Regions from separate parts of the Homo sapiens genome. Here region 2 is linked to region 1. Evidence: fine-mapped expression QTL. Tissue or cell type: whole blood. Region 1 holds a variant in brackets; the other region holds the start of a gene. All regions are shown on one strand. Distances are from middle to middle.

Region 1 (2,691 bases):
TGGACACAGACTGAAGCTACTGTCTGTGGGTGGAATTTCTCCCCCTCCCAGGGAAGCCTCAGTTCTGCTCATAAGACCTTTCAGTTTATTGAATCAGACATACTCAGATTAGTTAGAATAATCTCCCTTAAAGTCAACTGATTATGGACTTTAATCACATCTACAAATTATCTTCATAGCAATACCTAGATTAGTGTTTGATTCAATAACTGAGGACTGTAGCTTAGCCAAATTGACACATTAAAAAGACCATCACAGTGTGGCAGAAGGATTTTCTTTTAATCATGAAAAATTTAATGATGAAAATACACAAAAAAGGGCAAAGGGTCTTATGATCCTCCATTTGCAGTACCCATCATGCAGTTTCAACAATTAACTTTTTGCCAAAGAGATTTGCTTAATCTCTGTTTCAGTATTTTTCTTTCCCAAAGTATTTGAAAGAGGCATGGTATTTTACACTGTATTGGTTTTTCTCTGAGCATATCACTTTTGTATAGTACCTTATTATATATGCAACTAAAATGAATGAGCTCACACTTTTATCCTTCTGCCTGGAAACCATCTTGCCCAAGTCCAAGATTCATTAGGTACATTTTCTATCTTCTAAATTACAGCAACAGTTCACCAAATGTTCACCACTGCATCACCCAGGTCACCATTTTTCCAGCCTCCTGTAACAGTGTCCTCAATGGTTTTGGCCTGGACCTAAAGCCAATGCCATGAATATTTGGTAGCACTCTGCTGGTTTTGGTTAGCTTGGGTATGTCCTCATAGCAAAGACAGAGGGGCAAGAGAGCAAGTGGGCATGTGAGATTTCTCAAGGCCCAGGCTTAGAACTGGCACATTATCACTTTTGCTTCATTTTGGTAGCCAGAGCAGGTTACATTGCCAAGTCAAAACTAAAGAGGTAAGGAAACACACTCTGGTCCTTTAGTGAGATTGGAGAGCATGGAAGAGGATATTTCTAAATAGCAATCTAATTTAACACACTCTCTATGTATTTCAGTATATATTTCCTTAAAAATGGACTAATGAGATAATCAATAATTATTTGGTATTATCTAATACCCAGACAATAATCAAATTTCCCTGATTATCTCAAAAAAATTTTGACAGTTGCTTTGTTCAAATGGGATCTTAAAAAGGTCTATACTATCATATAGTTGG[T/A]TGTTGTATCTCATAATGTCTTTTAATCTAGAGAAATCTGCCCATCTACTTTATTCTCTCCTGCTGTTGACTTGTCGTAGAAACCAAGTTTGGTGTCCTGTGTTCTTTCCTACATTTGGAATGCATTTGTTTGCTTCCTTTTGGTGTCTTTCAGTGTGTTACTCTATCCACAGTATTTTTTGTAAGTGGAAGCACCAGATGCTTGAATAGATTCAGGTTCAAGGTTTTACAAGAATATTTCATAGATGGTTTTACAAGAATACTTCACAAAGGAAAAGATTTAAAGATGTTTTGCATGTATTTATTGGTTTATAAATTTGGTTTCTTAATATTTGGGGGCTGTCCTTGTACCTGCATCCTATGGCATTCCCTGCCTAGGATTCCTACCACCCCAAGTAGGCTTCAGGGTATCTGTATTTCCTGAATGATTAATTCCAATTCAATTTTGTTGCCTCCCACAGAAGAAGGATACAGTAGTGTTACTGACAGAGCAGTGCTATTAGGACAACTGTGCTGACTCCCCTAGATTTTGTTTTTAATCATTGTCAGATTTTGGTAATTGGACAATTGTTAGTAACATATTCTTTTTGAAGTCCTTTATAACTGCTTACAACTTTCGTTTGAAAGCTCTGCTTTATTTAGAGATGCAGAATCTATTGAGAGAACATATCTGTAAATACTCGACTCTGAGCAGTGTGACATATGCAGTGATAGAAATATTTTATGTAAAAATTGGTGTCTTGATTAGGAGATGGTTATTAATATCAGATTATTCCCCGCATCCTTTTATTTTAAGAAATTTCAATTTATCGAGAAAATGAAAGAATAGCATAATGTGTAATCTTCACCTAGATTCACCAATTGTTAACAATCACCACAAACATATGCATAATATGTGTATATACACACACATATCTATATTTTATTTTGATGACCCAGTTGGGATAAATTGCAGACATCATTATAATTCATCCCTAAATATGTCAGTTTATATCTCCTAAGAATAAGAGCATTTTCCTACATTTCCACATTACTGCTAACATACTCAGGAAATTTCACATTGATACCATTATTTTTTAATAGTTGATATCCAAATGTTCTAAATTATCCTAATAATCTCCCTCTTCCCTTTTCTGTTTTTTGAATCTAGGAGCCAATGCTTTAAGTTACCCTGTCTTCTTACTTTCCTTTAACATGATAAAAATAGATTAATCTGCCATGAAAAAGTGAAAATACCAAACCTTGGTGTGTGATGGGAAATGAACTCATGAAACACTACTGGACTTATGTATCAGCACAACACCTTAGTATAGATTTATCTGCGCCTGTGTCCTGGGCCATATTTTATAATTTGATTAATATTGTCCTTTGGGAATCCCTGATTCAATAGGATTAGTATCCTTATGAAAAGAGACTCAACAGAGCTTGCTCTCATTCTCCCTCTGCCATGTAAGGACACAGTGAGAGGACAGCTGTCTACAAGCCAAGAGAAGAAACCTGAATGAAACCTATCTTGGTGGTACT
Region 2 (2,691 bases), 34 kb after region 1:
CCTGGGTGTTGTGCAGTCAGCTCTTCCCGGGACCAAATCTGCAGCACAGGCTCTGTCCCTCTACTAACCTGCACATTCTCACGCCTGCAAATAGCGTACCCAAGTAAAGGTCTCAGCAACACCTGCTTCATAACGATGCTGGCAACATACTGCTTCCTCCCCAGCTACCAATTTGATGGCAGCTGTTGCAGCTCTGTCCTTCCTGGACTTAAATTCTGTATCTCCAACCCGGAGTCTCTGCCCATCTTGAATGCTCTAGAGCTCTGCACTATCCTACATAGGTCCCTACTATCAGTTCAAGTTTCTGTTTTCCATTCAGACACCCCCAGGACGTGCAGGGGGCCCTCTGCCCAGAACCTGTTTCTAGGCCCTGATACCCTCCTTCAGCCTGGGAGTTTGCTGCCCATGGGTAATTCCCACCAAGGGTTCACTAGCAACACTGCCTCTTCTGGCACAAGAATCTGCAACTCCAATCTGGTCTCTCCACCAACCACAGCGCCCCCAGACCTTGGAGAAGCGCGTTGTCTGCTCTAGGGGCCCAGAGCCACCTGCTCGGAATCTTACCTACAACCTTTTGCTTCCTACCCAAATACCTGATCAAGAGTAAAGGGACAGTGGCACAGCCCCTCCTCTCCAGAAACCACAATCTGCAATGGAGCACTCCATCAACCCGGACATCCTCAGGCCTCCACTAAATAAGCCCGGCATTGGAGGAGGGGAGTTCTCAAGATGTCCCCTTACATCAATGCATGTGCCCTGTGTTCCAGCAACCTGGGCATCCTCAGGCCCCAGACAAGAGCACCACCTGACCAAGCACCCGCGCATGCACGCAGAGGACAGTCGCGGAATATACAGCTGTATCAGTAACTCCATCAACCCCGGTGACCCGAGGCTAAAGCGCCACCCGCACAGATACCAGGTCTCCCCGCTACACTCACCACCGCTTCCAGCTTCCCGCGTAGACCCTGCGCATGCGCGCATCGGACACCAAGCGCTGCCCCACGCCCCTACCAACCTGGGCGTCCGCTGGCCCGCAGCCCAGGCTGGGCCTGTCACCGCCTCAGTGCCTAGCACGGCTCTGCGGCAGGACGAACTCGGGTTAGGCAACCCCCTGCCCCGATTCTGCAACACGGCCGACTCGGGTTAAGCTAGTTCGGTCCCCTCTCCTAGTCAGCATCCGCAAGGCCGCTGGGGGTTAAGTCTGAAGGGCCGAGCTGCTCGGCGACAGCAAGCGTCCGCGCGCGGGACAATGGCTGCTCTTGTGGCCGAACCCGGAAGTGCACTTGGGCTCGGAGAGCCAGAACTACAATTCCCAGAAGCCTCCGCGGCGCGGACGGTCAGTAGGCGGGGTTCCGGCTTCTCCAAGGAAGTGGGGCGGGGGACCGGGCCAGAAGCTAAGAGGGCGTCCTCGTCCGGGGCCCGGGGGGGCGCCACACCTGTGCATGTGCAGGTCTAGGGGGAGCACTAAGACCAGCCGCGGCGCCGGGAGGCCGAGGCCAGTGCAGCGACGCATGGGGAGTCGCTCTGGCGTGACGTCAGAATCCAATAGAAATGGCGGGGACCCTTTCTGGGTGCCCCCTGCCTGTCAGACGCTGCGCGCGACCCCTTGTCTCCTCTAGTCCTAGGGGAAACCTGTGAGACAGTTGCGACATCCCCATTTTACAGTGGAGGGAGCGTCTACCGAACCCTTCAGGAATCTATGTTTTTACATTTAATAATACTAAAATATAATCATTTTATTTTTAAATTTTGAGTTCTTTCTCTGCCTATAAGGCCTGAAGGATCTGTTCCCCCCACCTCTCCCCTTTTCTCTGTTTTTGTTTTGTTTTGTTTTGTTGTTTTGAGACGGAATTTCGCTCTTGTCGCCCAGGCTGGAGGGCAATAGCGCGATCTCGGCTCACTGCAACCTCCACCTCCCGGATTCAAGCGATTCTCCTGCCTCAGCCTCCTGAATAGCTGGGATTACAGGCGCCAGCCACCACGCCCGGCTAATTTTTGTATTTTTAGTAGAGACGGGGTTTCACCACGTTGGCCAGGTTAGTCTCCAACTCCTGACCTCAGGTGATCCGCCCTCGGCCTCCCAAAGTGCTGGGATTACAGGCGTAGTCCCCTTTTCTCTTTGCCCTCATTTCTTGCCCATTTGCTTGGCACATTTTCCCCATTCTCCAACAGATCCAGCAGACTCCAGCCCCTGGTCGTTTGCAGGTGCTCTTTGCACTCCCTAGCAGCCTCTCCTGAGGGATTCATTTGGCTCTCACCGTCTGGTAATTAGGGGAATATCATCTTCTCATGAGGCATTGCCCCACCACCCGTTGTGAACTTGCAAGCAAACGCTTCCCTCCCCACATGCTCTGTGCCTCCCCCTTCATCTTTTATTTTTTTCTCTAAAGAACTTTTCACTATCTAGCACACTATATATTTTAATTATTTATTTGGTCTACTGTCCGACCTACCACTACGATGTCAATTCCATAAGGAAAAGCATTTTATCGATGTTGATCACTGCTGCATCCCCAACACCTAAAAAAAAAAAAAAGAGAGAGACCTGGCACATAATAGATGCTCAATAAATATTCGTTGGCTAAATAAAGGTTCCTGTCTCTGTATTAAACACTTTAATATTTCATTACCAAGCCCAATCAGCCTATGAGGTAGTTGTGTTAATTTTCATCCTACCAGGGAGGTAGCTGA

Evidence for each region. PIP is the estimated chance that this variant, and not a neighbour inherited with it, causes the effect.
Region 2: it holds the start of ZNF180, and the variant in region 1 is fine-mapped to the expression of ZNF180 in whole blood (TOPMed, PIP above 0.99).

What each region holds. Positions count from the first base shown.
Region 1 is chr19:44,464,809-44,467,499 of GRCh38, forward strand. It overlaps the pseudogene ZNF285BP. Among named protein-coding and RNA genes, the nearest start is that of ZNF229, 18 kb to the left of the region's middle. The variant T/A (reference allele first, on the strand shown) is at 1,168.
Region 2 is chr19:44,499,260-44,501,950 of GRCh38, forward strand. ZNF180 (zinc finger protein 180) reads right to left here and starts at 1,263. Exons shown (of 5, transcript NM_001278509.3): 1 at 1,016-1,263. RefSeq lists enhancers at 533-1,031, 1,019-1,068, 1,032-1,532, 1,079-1,138, 1,149-1,358 and 2 more.